Regions from separate parts of the Homo sapiens genome. Here region 1 is linked to region 2. The links come from fine-mapping of genetic effects on gene expression. Tissue or cell type: sun-exposed skin. Region 2 holds a variant in brackets; the other region holds the start of a gene. All regions are shown on one strand. Distances are from middle to middle.

Region 1 (8,086 bases), 290 kb before region 2:
ATCTTTACTAAAAATAGAAAAAATTAGCCAGGCTTGGTGGCGGGCACCTGTAATCCCAGCTACTTCGGAGGCTGAGGTAGGAGAATCACTTGAACCTGGAGGCCGACGTTGCAGTGAGCCGAGATCGTCCCACTGTACGCCAGCCTGGGCAACAAAGTGAAACTTCATCTCAAAAAAAAAAAGAAAGAAAAGAAATATCCTTTTGGTGTTACTTCTCTAACAGACAGCTCCCAATTTTCTTCTTTTTTTTTTTTTTTTTTTTTTTTGGGGGGGATTGAGTTTTGCTCTTGTTGCCCAGGCTAGAGTGCAATGGCATGATCTCGGCTCACCGCAACCTCCACCTCCCGGGTTCAAGCAATTCTCCTGCCTCAGCCTTCCGAAGAGCTGGGATTACAGGCGCCCGCTACCACGCCCAGCTAATTTTTTGTATTTTTAGTAGAGACGGGGTTTCTCCATGTTGGTCAGGCTGGTCTTGAGCTCCTGACCTCAGGTGATCTGCCTGCCTCAGCCTCCCGAAGTGCTGGGATTACACGCGTGAGCCACTGTGCCTGGCCAGCTCCCAATTTTCCATGAAGCTGATGAGGTAGGAAGATATGAATTTTCCAAAACAGTAGCTCATCAAACAACAACAAAACTAACTTATAGCTCATCTCTAAGCAATTAAATGATATTGACTCCCCTATCATTATTTCATCCAGGCTGATATGGAACAAGTTTGTATTAACTGAGAAACTGATCAGAGGGTGGGCAGAGATGATCTGGGATGTGTTGGCTACTGTGTGAGGCTAACATAAAACTCAATGGTGGAGGAAGTAATCTAAGATAAATTATATTAATGTTCTGCATTAATCAATAATCTTGGCCAGGCGCGGTGGCTCACGCCTGTAATCCCAGAACTCTGGGAGGCCGAGGCAGATGGATCACCTGAGGTCAGGAATTAGAGATCAGCCTGGCGATGTGGTGAAACCCTATCTCTACTAAAAATACAAAAATTAGCCAGGCATAGTGGCAGGCACCTGTAATCCCAGCTACTCGGGGGACTGAGGCAGGAGAATCGCTTGAACCCAGGGGGCAGAGGTCGCAGTGAACTGAGATCGAGCTATTGCACTCCAGCCTGGATGACAGAGTGAAACTGCATCTGAAAAAAAACAAAAAAACAAACAAAAAAAACACCTCTCATCCATGGAGTAAACTTTCCTCACTTTGGTTGGGAATACCAGTAAAAATAATTCATGTTTTGGCCGGGCACGGTGGCTCACCCCTGTAATCCCAGCAATTTGAGAGGCCGAGGTGGGCGGATCACCTGAGGTCAGGAGTTTGAGACCATCCCGGCCAACATGGTGAAACCCCATCTCTACTAAAAATACAAAAAATTAGCTGGGCGTGGTGGTGGGCACCTGTAATCCCAGTTACTTGGGAGGCTGAGGCAGGAGAATCACTTGAACCCGAGAGATGGAGGTTGCAGCGAGCCAAGATTGCGCTATCGCATTCCATCCTGGCTGACGAGTGAAAACTGTCTCAAGAGAAAAAAAAAATCATGTTTTATTTTCTAGGGATTAGAGTAGGTGGACAGGAGTCTGTTAAATAATCAGATATAGCTTATTTAAATGCTTAATAACATATATTCTATTTTTTTCTTTTTTCTTGTTTCCCTATGCTTCTATAGGCACTGAATAGCTCTGTTGCCCAGGCTGGAGTGCAGTGGTGGGATCTTGGCTTACTGCAACCTCTGCCTCCTGGACTTAAGCCATCCTCCCACCTCAGCCTCCCCAGTAGCTGGGGCCACCATGCCCAGCTATTTTTTTTTTTTTTTTTTTTTGAGACGGAGTCTTGCTCTGTCGCTCAGGCTGGAGTTCAGTGGCACAATCTCGGCTCACTGCAAGCTCCGCCTCCCAGGTTCACTCCATTCTCCTGTCTCAGCCTCTGGAGTAGCTGGGACTACAGGCGTCTGCCACCATGCCCGGCTAATTTTTTTTGTATTTTTAGTAGAGACGGGGTTTCACCATGTTAGCCAGGATGGTCTCAATCTCCTGACCTCGTGATTCGCCTGCCTCGGCCTCCCAAAGTGCAGGGATTACAGGTGTGAGCCACCGCACCCGGCCTAATTTTTTAATTTTTTTGTAGAGATAGGGTTTTGCCATATTGGGCAGGCTGGTCTTGAACTCCTGGACTCAAGGGATCTAACCCACTTCCGCCTCTCAAAGTGCTGGGATTACAAGTGTGAGCCACCCCACACGACCCCACATACTCTTCAACACATACATACAGCACTAATTTCATGTCACTATTAATGTGTCGTGCTATAGGTTCAATACTGTGGCTGGAACTTGTAGGGAAATACTTACCACATAAGAATGTACGATATAGCTGCGAAGTCAAGCTTTAAAAAACGCCTGTAATCCTTGCACTTTGGGAGGCCGAGGTGGGCGGATTGCCGGAGCTCAGGAGTTGGAGACCAGCCTGGGCAACACGGTGAAACCTCGTCTCTACTAAACTAGAAAAAATTAGCCGGGCATGGCAGCGTGCACCTGTAATCCCAGTTACTCTGGCGGCTGAGGCAGGAGAATCGCTTGAACCTGGGAGGCAGAGGTTGCAGTGAGCCGAGATTGTGCCACCGCACTCCAGCCTGGGTGACAGAGTGAGACTCCGTCTCCAAAAACAACAACAACACGTGATCTCCAAACCCAAAAGTAATCTTTCAGTTCTTCTGATAGTCCCCAGCACTTTGCTTCGACCTTTGTAGCAATTCTACTTCAGCCTGAAATTTCTTGTATGTACAGCCTGTAGCTCCTAACTTATTGCAAAATATTGTAGATGAGAACTCTGTAAGCTGTAATTGGCAGAATAATAACCAACGGCTAAGTGTGGAAAGTGTCTGCCTTTCAGCAACGTTTACACTACTGAATTTACCAGGGTGATCCCAACATCACGAATCCTTTAACAACTTAACATGAAGCAGCACGTAGCAGTTACCTGCATGGGTTCTGGAATTAGACTGCTTAGATTCAAATCTCGGTTCTGCCAGTTATCATCTATCTAACCTTAAGTAAATTACGTAATTGCTCTGTGACTCCTTTCCGAAATGACAAATCACAAATGTTTTTGTCAATTCACGTGTCTTCTGCTTTAGTAAACATAGTAGAAGACAGTAGTCAATCTCTTTTTTTGTTTTTTTTTGAGACAAAGTCTTTCTCTGTCACCGACGCTGGAGTGCAGTGGCGGGATCTCGGATCACTGCAGCCTCCGCCTCCTGTGTTCGAGGGATTCTCCTGCCTTAGCCTCCCAAGTAGCTCAGACTACAGCCGCCTGCCACCAAGCCCGGCGCTCTCTTGCTGGCGCATGACAACCGTGCGTTCCACCCTACGACTAATTTTTTTTTTTTTTTTTTAGACGGAGTCTAGCTCTGGCTGGAGTCAGTGGCGCGATCTCGGCTCACTGCAACCTCTGCCTCCTGGGTTCAAGCGATTCTCCTGCCTCAGCCTTACAAGCAGCTGGGACTACAGGCGTGTGCCACCACGCCCGGCTAATTTTTGTATTTTTAGTAGAGACGGGGTTTCGTCATTTTGGCCAGGCTGGTCTCGAACTCCTGACTTCAGGTGATCCACCGGTCTCGGCCTCCCAAAGTGCTGGGATTACAGGCGTGAGCCACCGCGCCCGGCCTCCTTTTCCTTTTTTAACTAATGGAATAAACGGCAATGTGCCAAGCATACAGCAATGCCCATTCCCCGGCCTTCAGAAAGCCTCGGGCGCAGGCGCAGCTCGCGTTCAAGCGCTCTCTCGCTGGCGGGGGACAACAGTTCGTTCCACCCTACGCCCAACGTTGTCTCCCTGCGCACGCGCGGCCGTACTCCGCCCTCCTTACTCCACCCTCCCCCACTCCCGCGAGCACGTGCGCGTCCTCGCTGCTCACATTTCGGCGGAGGGCGCGCTCCCTGGAAAATTCCACTCCTGTGCTAGCTCCACCCTATGCGGCTTTTCTCCTACCCGACGCTCTTCACTCTCAGCTCCCTTCCCGGCGGCCTTTGCGGGAACAAGATGGCAGCCCCCATACCTCAAGGGTTCTCTTGTTTATCGAGGTTTTTGGGCTGGTGGTCTCGGCAGGTGGGTAGGGACGGGGCCGATAGGACCCTAGGGGCTACAGGAGAGGACAGAGTCGAGGGAAATACTCTCTGTGCAATTGTCCTTGGTGAGCTGGGACAATACGAGTCATACCTAGGCCGGGGAAGAGGCTTAGGTGGACAGGACCTAGCTGCGGAGCTCAGTGGTCGAATGGGGATAGCCTAGACAGGGCCATGAGAGCGAGTGAATTAACGGATATTAAGTTTTTCCGGATTGGTTTGGGTCTGTCTGGCGAGGAGATATTAAAGGAGAGACAAGTAATGGGTTGGAAGGTGGACTCCCTAATCTTCGATTCTTATAAGTGAACTACGTTGAAGAGTAGCCGAAAATGAGGGCGTCCCATATTGTCACTGCCCCGTCTGAGCAAACCTCATGATCAGAGAGAAAAGATCTCCTGATCTTTCGAGGGTTTATTGGTCAGTTGGGTGCTAAAACGACAGAATAAAGTTTACAGCGAGACTCCCGATAGGATGAGCAAAATATCACGAGTACATATGGAGCAGATGCCTACAAGAGGACTTTGCTTATGCTTTAAGCATAGCATTCAGGGCCCGGCGCGGTGGTTCACACTTGTAATCCCAGCACTTTGAAAGTCCGAGGCAGAAGGATGGCTTGAGCCCAGGAGTTCGAAATGAGCCTGGGCAACATATAAGACCTGGTCTTTACAAAAAAATTTTAAAATTAGCCAGATGCGATGGCGCACTCCTTAGTCCCAGCTACTTGGGAGGCTGCGGTGGGAGGATAGCTAGAGCCCAGGAGGTCAAGGCTGCAGTGAACCGTGATCGTGCCATCGCACTCTAGGCTAGCGATCTGCCTCAAAAAATAATAAAGAATAGTATTCTGCCCATTTCAGTATTGAGTTGGTGTTTCCCCATCACCATCAGTTTTTGAAACTTGCTTTGATCAACTCAGTATCCGTAGGAGTTAGCATAGTCCTGTACTGTGGGAAGTTCTAAAGGAAAGCCTTTAGTAAATGTGATGTTAATAAAGGTTGCTAACTGTCTTCTATTTAGAGACACCCATAAGTATTAAGGTCCTAATGCATTTTTTCCCTGTGATATTGTTTTATAATTGTTCCTGAAGCATTCTTTGGATATTCCCTCTCTATAGTGCTTTGCTTAGAGTTTGTAAAAGATAGTAGATCTTTTTTCTAGGTTCCTAACCTTTCCTTTACCTTCCAGCCAGTTCTGGTGACTCAGTCCGCAGCTATAGTTCCAGTAAGAACTAAAAAACGTTTCACACCTCCTATTTATCAACCTAAATTTAAAACAGAAAAGGAGTTTATGCAACATGCCCGGAAAGCAGGATTGGTTATTCCTCCAGAAAAATCGGACCGTTCCATACATCTGGCCTGTACAGGTGAGGTATTTCTGGGACCCTGACCTGGGATCCTTCTGTCAGAGATCTTCTGGAACTTGGGATGACTTGGACTATGATTGATAATATTTAATTAAGCACGAAGTCAGTTCAACCTCAATAATGATTAACCTTATATACACTATATATCATGAAGTTGTTCTTTGAACTTACTTTCACACTGTCCCTAGAAGGCAAGAGTGAAATTTCTCCATTTTGTGGAAGTAGAAACTGAGGCTCTGAGAGAAGACTTAAATCTTTCTGGCTTTTTTTGTTTTGTTTTGTTTTGTTTTTTGAGACAGAGTCTCGTTCTGTCGCCCAGTGGCACAATCTGGGCTCACTGCAACCTCTGCCCCCCTGGGTTCAAGCGATTCTCCTACCTCAGCCTTCCAAGTAGCTGGGATTACAGGCACCTGCCACCATGCCCGGCTAATTTTTGTATTTTTAGTAGAGATGGGGTTTCACCATCTTGGCCAGGCTGGTCTTGAATTCCTGACTTTGTGATCCGCCCGCCTCGGCCTCCCAAAGTACTGGGATTACAGGTGTGAGCCACTGTGCCCGGCCTTGTTTTGTTTTTTTCTAGTGTAACATAGTTCTCTCTACATGGAAGTCTGTTTCATTAGTCTACTTCATATCCACAATCCTTCCCAATTTTACATTACTTCAATTTTATGAGTTTTTCTCAATCTTTCAACACTTTCTTAATTTTTTTCTTCCTTTATTACAGCTGGTATATTTGATGCCTATGTTCCTCCTGAGGGTGATGCACGCATATCATCTCTTTCAAAGGAGGGACTGATAGAGAGAACTGAACGAATGAAGAAGACTATGGCATCACAAGTGTCGTAGGTGTCTGAGACAATTGGGTATTGGTATTAGAATAACAATTTTTTGTTGCTACTTTATCCCAAAGAGACCTTTTTGGGTTAATTGGGTTGGGTGTCATTCTCTTAATAACATGATGGTATTTTCTCCTTTGTACTAGAGTCTGTATTTAATGCAGAATAATGTGGGCTTCCTGATTCTCAGCATCCCTGCCTTTATTGGTAATTTTTGTCATATCAGTTAGGGAGTTGACTTTGGAGTGTATAGGATCCTTTTTTAATCATATATTTAATTTTTTTTTTTTTGAGATGGAGTTTCGCTCTTGTTGCCCAGACTAGAATGCAATGGCACGATCTTGGCTCACCGCAACCTCCGCCTCCTGGATTCAAATGATCCTCCTGCCTCAGCCTCCTGAGTAGCTGGGATTACAGGCATGTGCCACCATGCCCGGCTAATTTTGTATTTTTAGTAGAGATGTGGTTTCTCCATGTTGGTCTGTTGGTCAGGCTGGTCTTGAACTCCTGACCTCAGGAGGCCCGCCTTGGCCTCCCAAAGTGCTGGGATTACAGGTGAGAGCCACCACGCCCAGCCCTTTATTTATTTATTTATTTATTTATTTTGAGACGGAGTTTCACTCTTAACTCACTGCAACCTCTGCCTCCCGGGTTCAAGAGATTCTCCTGCCTCAGCCTCCCGAGTAGCTGGACTACAGACGCATGCCACCACGCCCAGCTAATTTTTGTATTTTTAGTAAAGACGGGGTTTCACCATGTTGGCCAAGATGGTCTCGATCTCTTGACCTCGTGATCCACCCACCTCAGCCTCCTGAAGTGCTGGGATTACAGGCGTGAGCCACTGCGCCCAGCCGACCTGGCTAATTTTTAAAAGAAATTTTTGTAGAGACGGGTTATCACTATGTTGCCCAGGCTGGTCTCGAACTCCTGGGCTCAAGCAGTCCTCCCACCTCAGCCTCCCAAAATTCTGGGATTACAGGTGTGACCCGTCACACCCAGCCAGTCTAGCTCTGACTGTATCTATCTTTTTTTTTAAATTTGTACTGTTCATTGCAGAGCAGGGCTACCCCATAGGCCACTGTGCCCAGAGTAGCCGCTGTCACTATATGTAAATCATGTATAGGTTTATGTGCATAAGTATATTGAGTCAGTATGAATTCTTCACATGGCCATGACTTATTTCTCTACATATAGATTTTATTGGCTGGGTGCGGTGGCTCACGTCTGTAATCCCAGCACTTTGGGAGGCTGAGGTGGGCGGATCACCTGAGGTCAGGAATCGAAAACCAGCCCGACCAACATGGAGAAACCTCATCTCTACTAAAAATGCAAAATTAGCCGGGCGTGGTGGCACATGCCTGTAATCCCAGCTACTCAGGAGGCTGAGGCAGGAGAATCGCTTGAACCCGGGAGGCGGAGGTTGCGGTGAGCCGAGATCGTGCCATTGCACTCCAGCCTGGGCAACAAGGGCGAAACTCTGTCTCAAAAAAAAATAATAATAAAAAAGATTTTATCATATTACCTCCCTGCTTAGAACTCTTTTATGGCTTCCTGTTAACCAAAGAATAAAATCCAGATATCTTCAGTGGTATACAAAGCTTTTATAATCTGGTCCTTGCCTTTTTCTCCACCATCATTCTTTGTCCTTATTCCATTTTTCTCATCCTAAATTTTAGCATTTCCAAACTAATTGCCAATTCCTTGCCAGTACTGTACCATTCCTCTTTGTCTTTGCACATCCTTTCCTTTGCCTGAAATGTCTTTTTCCCCTC
Region 2 (8,103 bases):
CCTTCTGAGTAGCTGGGATTACAGGAGCCCACAACCATGCCCAGCTAATTTTTGTATTTTTAGTAGAGACGGAGTTTCACCATGTTGGCCAGGCTGGTCTCCAACGCCTGACCTCAGGTGATCCGCCCGCCTCGGCCTCCCAAAGTGCTGGGATTACAGGCGTGAGCCACCGCGCCAGGCCAAAGTAGGTTGCTTTCAATGAAAGACATTCCTGAGCAGCGATGGGCTTGTAGCAGCCTGACCTCCCTGTTACCCCTACGCCTGTTCCAGCCATCAGCAAGTCCTCGGAGTGGCCCTGACCCCCCTCGGACCTGAGCAGCCCAGGGAAAAGACACAGGGATCGATTCCAATCTAGCAAGCGGATCCAGGCACCTGCCAGCCCTGCACAGATCAATGCGTCCTGTTCCAGGCAGGGAGGGCATGAGAGACCCGGGCTGGGGTCTTAAGCATGGCTGGGTTCTGCTGGGAGAGGGATAGGGGCATTGCGATAGAGAGAGACGGAGGCAGGGAACTCTGGGGGAAGGGAAGCAAAGCTAGGATACCCTGGTGGAGGGGCGTTGGGCCTGAAGGTTCCCCCCAACCCAGGGATGGGGTTGGGGAAACCAGAGACATAAGGGAGGGGGCTCAGGGCTTCTCTTTTCTCCAAGGAACCTCAGTGTGCAAGGCTGACTATATTTTTTGAGTCCGAGATTCAAGCCACAGGGAAGATGCCAAGAACTGGCGAAATCCAGAATCCGAATGAGGGGAAGGGCAGGGTGAGGAAGGCGGGTTCTGCCACCCTCAGCTCAGCCTGCCCCGCCTGGGAAACGCGGAAGGTGAAAGTGGCCTGAGGCTGGGGTGGCCGGGAAGTGGCGGGCGCCCCCCAGTGGCCGGCTAGGAGGACGGCACAGGTGCTTGGGAAGAGTGACGTTGTCATTTGTCCGAACAATTCCAAATTCTACGTTTATTTATCAGCCTCATTTATTTTTATCCTCCACCACATTCTTTTACATGAGATCACTGTAACTGATTATGAGAATTAAGATCCCAACATCTTAGTGACACCATCTCATAAGCCACCAAGCCGGTCCCCAACTGGCATCTTTACCCCGGATGTAACCCTCTACTCTGTCCTCTGGCTGCCCCTGGGCAACATTCACACATGATGTCATCTGCAAAGGAGGAGAACGGGGAGAGGAGAGGAGAGGGAGGGAGAAGGAAGGAGAGAGGCAAATGGACAAAGTAGAGGAAGAACGAAGCCACCAGCTCAGGAAAGGGAGAAGAGAACTCTCTGGGGCCCCTGATGTGAGTCCTCCCCAGCCCCAAACTCAAGATCTGGAAATCAGGTCCCTGTAACCCTCTCTGTGGAGATAAGGAGGCTGGACAAAACCCCTCCCTTGGGGACCTGAGAGGCTGTCACATGTGTGCCCCGACCCACTGCCTGGGCAGGGGTAGGAGCTGGGTTATAGCCCTGGCAGGAAGCGAGGGCAGGAGGCACTCAGGGTGAAGACACCAACTCACAAGCCCACAGGACATGGGGCTAGGCAGGGCAGCAGGAGAGGAGCATGGAGACAGCTGGAAGGGTGGAGGACCTGCCTGCCTTAGGCCACACCCACACACACACACAAACACACAGCATGAGGCTCCCCCAGTCCCTCCTCTGCAGCCAATGCTACAGGAGCCCAAGTCAGCCAGGAGGAGCCCCGAGGCACTGCCACCTTCGATTGTGCATGATGACTCCATCCTGCTGGGTGCCTGCTGCAGTCGGGAAGCACACGGTGTGCTTGGAGGTTGGAGGCCAGAGGACAAAGGTCAACCGGGACCAGATATGTATCAAACTAGGCAGAGGCTCTGGGAACCCGAATTAGGAGAGGGGATCCTTTGCTTCCCCTGCTAGTGAAGGAATCGGCCTCCCTGTCCCTGGGTGCCCCTGGCTCTGCCTTCCTTGTGTGCCCATACTCCTCAGTTTCTGCTGGCTGGCTGTGGGTCCTTGGATCAGAAGCCCATCTGTGTCTGTTTTCTAAAACCATCTTTTCCGCCCCATACCACAGCAACCAAAGTCATTTTCCGGGCAATTGCCTTTCTGTAAACATTCCTGTGTAATATCCCCCCAAATTGCTAATACCCAGCGCCCTGTTGAGTCTCCCTGTCACTCCAACTAAAGCCTCGGAGATGAGGGCGTGTGATGGGGGAAGGGCGATGGGGGGAAGGAGGCAGCTGGACTGAGGATTGGAGACAGGGGGCTCCTGCCTAGCTCCTGGCACAGAGCGGGGGCCAGAAACTCTGCACCTCCCCACGGTGATCCCCACTCCCTGCCAGCCCAGCCCCACCCCCTGAATGTCAGGCTCCACTTCAGGAGAGTCTGCCTGGACTAGGAGGGAAGACAGAGAGGAAGTGGGAAGGGAGCCCACTGGACAGAAGGCCTGAGACAGGGCCTGGGAGGAGAAGGAGCTGAGTTGAAGGCATGGAGGAGATGGCTAGAAAATAAAGACTCCTGGTGACTAGGGCAGGGCACTAGGGACATGGGGCAAGGCCAGGCAAGTTGTCTTCAAGGAATGCCAGCTCCCCTCCCCACCAAGGGTGACAAGGAGGACAGAGAAGAGGGTCGAGGCCAGGGAGGATCGAGGCCATCCCCCCAGCGTGGGCCCTGCCCACTCCCTGGGCACTGTAGTGGATGGGGGCGGGGGGAGATGGACAAGGCAAGAGGTGTCAGGTGGTTCTTGGCAGGTGATACACCTGTTGTCCCCTCCTCCACCTCCCAGCCCTGATCTATAAAGCCACCATGGAGAAGGGTCTGGAGCAGGCTGATTCTCCTCATCATACAGCAAGGGAAACTGAGGCTCAGGGAGGTCGAGTGATCTAATCTGAGTCACCACATGGACTCCCTTCCCCAGGGGTGGGGGTAAGAAGGGGGACTAGGACTGTGGCCTATGACCCTGTGGTCTCTTCCATCCCCCTGCCCAGGGAATACTGCCACCCCCTTCCCAAGCTCCACAGAAGCTGGGCATCCAATGGGATGGGGGATGATGGAGCCCTGGAGGGAGCTGGGAGCAGAGGTGATGCAAAGGGCAGCTAGGGAGGGTGCAGGGCACTGCCAGTCACAGCTTTGTGTAGGCAGAAAAACACAAACCAATTTGTGCAGATTTAAAACCCACTGAAGGCCACTTAGTTGGTAAACGAGTCAGAATCTAATTAAAGGACCTCTTCGAGGCTGGGGGAAGGCACTGACACCTGCCTAGGAGGAGCGGTGAGGCTGGGGGCCTGGGCCCTGGCTGCTACTGGTGGAGCTGCTGGGGCTTTCCATGGGGAGAGCAGATTTGAGGGGGTCAAGCTCCCTGCGGGTGGGCACCCGGGGAGGGGGGCGGGCATCAGATGCTTCCCCAGCCCAGCTCTTCCTCCTCGCCCATCCCAGGCTGACTGTGTCCACTTGCACAGACCTGGGCACTCCCAGGGCAGGACCCTCACCTCCTCCCTCAGACTGGGGCCTCCCTTATGGCAGAAGGGCCATTCCACCCAGAAGGGCAGAATTGGGTGGGGTGAGGAGGCCCACCCACCACATCAGGAGTGGGGTGGGGTCCTGGGGACTCTCAAAGATCCCAGGCTTGGCCTCGGTGCCACCTCCACCAACTGCACTGGCTCTGCATGGCTATTGAGTCCTTGCTTCCTTCTGCTTGCAGCTGTCTCTCCCCCAGGGCCCCAGGCCACACAGCACAGCAGCTCTCAGACTCTGGTGGTGAGGTGGGGCCTCCCCTCAGCTCTCAGCTCTCGGGAAGAGGTGGCCCCCTCCTTACCCGTCCTGTGTCGGGAAACCACAGTGCTCTCTCTCCAGCCAGATGCCTTTCCTAGGCAGGAAACCAACACCCAGAGTACAAGCCTGACCCAATCTGCAGGAGCTGAAGGCAGAGCCCAAAGTGGAACCCAGGGGTCCTGGCCCTCAGGGACAAGGATTTTTCCATTCCACGATGCCACTTCCCAGAAAGCAGCTGCCTGGGGAGCCCCTCTCTAGGCCACGGGCCCCAGGAGGACACAGACTAACAACCTCCTTAGGAAGGATCAGCAGCAAGGCAGAAACACCGCAGCAGCCCGGCCGACAGGGAGAAAAGCTGGGGTCCATGGCCCAGTGATGCCCCCAGCCCAGGGGGATGCTCACCACACAGAAATCAGGGTCCCCGCAGGGCATCCGAACTGCACATTCAGACAAGACTCCCCATCCTTGCAAAATGTGCAAATCAGCCCCGTGCCCAGAATTCCAGATATACAACCCTCTTTCTTCCCCCTGCCCCTCCT[CT/C]TTCACACACAGCAGGCAAATCTGTGACATTACCAAAAACCACTGCATCCACTGACTAGTTATGTGACCTTGAGTAGGTCAGGGGATGCTCAGAGCTTCAGTCCTCTCATTTGCTTTAACAAAAAAAAAAAAAAGGAAGAAGAAGAAGAAGCAGAAGCTAATAACAGGCAACAGGCAACAGGCAACAGGCATGCAGACTGCAGAGCCTGGGTGAGCAGAGTCAGTTTCTTCTGATCTACCCCGGAGCCCGATTTCCTTCCACCCACTGTCAGAGTTGTATCAGACCCAGGACTGTGGGGTTGTGATTTTTGGCTTCTAATGAAGATCTGGCTAATTGGCTTCCCTGGGAAGGAAGGGGGCAGAGATATGGAGGGCAGCATGTCACCCCCAGTCTGAAGCTGGAGCTGGAAATGCTGAGAACAGCCCTGGCATGTGCCCACGCGGCACTATGTTAACCAGCTAACTCCTGTGTGGCAGCTCCACTGCTCACGCGCCCAGGGAAGGTGTCCTGTCAGCTCCACATCTCCTTGGAGAGGCAGCCGAGGGGAACACAGGCCGAGCGGGAGGGGAGGAGGGAACACTGGAGGGTGGGAAGGGAGGAAGGCCGGTGCCTGTCCTCAGCTCTGCCATCACTCTGAGGAGGCTGCCAGGGCGTCTTCTCCCCAGGGGGCACTCCAGCCTGAGTGCTGCGCCCCTCTGTGTGTGAAAGGGATCTTTCCTCCCTCCCTGCAGCTGCCTCAGGCTGAAAGCGTGCCCAGGGGGAAGCATATTGTTTCCAGGGGAAGAGACTCCAATCTGTTGGAAGTGAGTGGTGGAAGCCCCACCCACCATCCTGCCTCCCCACAGGGAAGCATTTTCAACACCAAGTACTCATCAACGGGCTCATCAATATTGGGCAGGAGACCCAGCCTTGCCAAGATGCCCTTGATATCCTCCTCAGAGACACCACCTTTCATGGGGACAGGCTCTCCCTAGGAGGCCTTGTCCCAGCCCTATGACCTAGTAGCACTCAGACAGCTCCCTCGGCCGCTAGAACCAGCAGGATTCCTCCGGGTTCCCAGCACACACTCAGTCGCCCAGGCACACACATCTGCTCACTCATGCTTCTACGTCAAACCTGTGCACCTCGGCATGCGCCTGGCTGCCCAGTACTTGCTCACTGACATGGGCCCAGTCACAGCCTGCCTCACCAGCACTCTCCACCTGACCTCAGGTGATCCACCTGCCTCGGCCTCCCAAAGTGCTGGGCTTACAGGCGTGAGCCACCGTGCCCAGCCATGATAACCACTCTTGAACACCCACACGTATTCATGACAGTCTACATGCAGGGGTCTACATACCTGGGCCCACCAGGGTGCCCCACTCTGCCACCTTAGATGCCACGCAGACAGGGAGAATGTCATGCCAGTCCACGCAGCTCATGCAGGGCATCTGGGGCTCGCTAAAGCGCCAGGTGGATGCATCTCCAGCTTGGGGTGAAAGACAGTGGGGACTTGCCCATCCTGAGTCCCTCATGGAGGCGACATCTTCAGCTCCTTTTCCACTTTGCCAGGTTCGGGGCTCCCTTGCTGAGGTGTTTACACAATGTCTTAAAATACAGGAGTCAGCCCAGTAACCTCAAGGCCACCTACTCTGACCAATGCTTAGCCAATGGGGCGATGTTCATGAGTGAGACCCTCCTCTGGGACCTGGTTGCCTCCAGCCCTCATTCCACCTCTGTAGGTGCTCAGCGCCTCCACCAGGGCGAGGGGGCCGGAGAGCCTCTGCCCAGCTTCCAGCTCTGCTGATGGGGAAGGACAGGGCTGCTGGGACCCAAGGCTTAGCTCTCACCTCATGGGTTAATTTCTCTGCCACCCTGCAAGCTAGCTAAGAACAAACAGCCGAATCTGCAGCCCATGATTCTCTCTCCCTAGGGACACCCTGTTAGTATCCCGAGAGACTCTGGAGGATGGGGCGAGGGCAGCCCGGAGTTCACAGTTTGGAAAAGGCAGGAGACTTGGCAAGTCGGCTTGGCCTCTGGGTCAGGCAGTCTTTGGAAGCCAGGGCCTGGTCAGATAGCAGGGGCATCTTGTGGAAGTTCTCTTTGTTGTCTAACCTGAGCTCTCCCATCAGAGCAGCATCTGGGAATGTGGAGCACAGGCTTCAAGGCAAGGAAAAATAAACTGTCTCCCCTTCTGCGAAAGACACAAAGACTCCCACCCTCCCTTCTCCAATCCACACATCCATCTTGAGTGACGAGGGTTAAACCCAGCATCGGGCTTTCTGGAAGCTGTGGGAAATATGGACCAGCCATGAAATGATAACCACTCTTTTTCTTGAGACAGTCCTGCTCTGTCGCCCAGGCTGGAGTGCAGTGGCACAATCTCAGTTCACTGCAAACCCCTCCTCCCGGGTTCAAGCAATTCTCCTGCCTCAGCCTCCCGAGTAGCTGGGACTACAGGCCCGTGCCACCACACCTGGCTAATTTTTGTATTCTTAATAGAGACAAGGTTTTGCTGTGTTGGCCAGGCTGGTCTCAAACTCCTGACCTCAGGTGATCTGCCCGCCTTGGCCTCCCTAAGTGCTGGGATTACAGGCATGAGCCACTGCACCCAGCCATGATAACCACCCTTGAACACCCACACATATTCATGATGATCTCAAAGGGCTCGTGCAGCCATCATTCTCTTCATTCTCACAGTCACCTTGTGAGGTTGCAAACCCCCTATTTTACAGGTGAAGAAACTGAGGCTCAGGAAGGAGTGACTTGTCCAAGGTCAGAGTTGATAAGTGGAAGAGGCTGATCTCAACTGCCGGGGTGCTTAGCCCATTAGCCCATGTCCTTCTTCTTTCCCCTACACTCTGTTGCCCCTGAGGAAGATGCTGATTCTGCCACCAGGTCATCTGTGAGTACTCATCTAAGCCATTAGGCCAGAGCCCCACAGGTCCCCTCTGTCCTTCCTACACCCTAAGAAGAGAACGCTGAAACAACCCTCCTTCCCAGCTAATCTTGGGCGCCATCCACCCAGTCCTCTTGGGGGGGCCTATTCCCCAGGGCTGGAGGAGAGGGAGGAAGCAGAGCCACCCCCAGATCACAGAAACTTAGGCTGGAAGTGGGGGTCCCACAGTCCTGAAAGACCTTCTAGGGGATCCACCTTTCCACAGCCCTACTCGTAGCCTTCTTGTACCTATGCTGGATACGAAGCCCTCCCAGCCCCTGCCACAGGCTGTGCAGAGACAGAACTGCAAATCAGGAGCTCCAGCCAGTCAGGTCTTAGATACTTCCAGGAAAGGAGAACTCATTACATCCAAAGCACCAATCATCTTGTGGGGTTTCTCCTTCCTTAACATGAGCCACAGTCTGTGCCCATGGCCCTCAGGGGAACCTGGGGGAAGGTCATGACCTCTCCCTTTGGAGCAGAGTGGAGGCTCCTGAACCGGAACCTTCTGTCATAAGCCCTCAGGTCCTTCCTGTGTGGCCCAGCCCCCCAGCCATCTGCACCACCCTTTGTTGGGTAATCCCCATGTCACCACCCCTCTTGGCTGCTGGCCTTCAGAACTGCTCTAATGGTCCAGATGAGGTATGAGCAGCACAGGTGACTCCTCTCTGCTTCTGTTACTAAAGTGCCTTCGCTAGTGCCCCTCCTGCCCACACAGCACATGTGCCAGGAAAAACAAATGCTCAGGGCCTAAGAGCGCTGTTCCAGGGCCAGAACATACCTTCCTTGCCTCCTGCTCCTAACGCTCAGGCCTCCCCCAGCCTCAGACCTCAGGGGGCCAGCCTGACTCCTCCTGCCTGGAAGGGGTGAAGTTCCTGGCCCAGTCAGCTGAAACTGCTCCTTCCAGTCACTTCCATT

What was found. PIP is the estimated chance that this variant, and not a neighbour inherited with it, causes the effect.
Region 1: MRPL45 starts here. The variant in region 2 is fine-mapped to the expression of MRPL45 in sun-exposed skin (GTEx, PIP above 0.99).

What each region holds. Positions count from the first base shown.
Region 1 is chr17:38,293,149-38,301,234 of GRCh38, forward strand. MRPL45 (mitochondrial ribosomal protein L45) reads left to right here and starts at 4,020. Exons shown (of 8, transcript NM_032351.6): 1 at 4,020-4,101; 2 at 5,301-5,478; 3 at 6,203-6,320. The coding sequence starts at 4,036. LOC105371760 (a long non-coding RNA gene) reads right to left here and starts at 2,457. Exons shown (of 3, transcript XR_934732.2): 1 at 2,346-2,457. RefSeq lists enhancers at 3,356-3,904, 3,905-4,455.
Region 2 is chr17:38,583,672-38,591,774 of GRCh38, forward strand. The region is part of intron 1 of SRCIN1 (SRC kinase signaling inhibitor 1); the gene reads right to left. Among named protein-coding and RNA genes, the nearest start is that of SRCIN1, 18 kb to the right of the region's middle. The variant CT/C (reference allele first, on the strand shown) is at 4,267.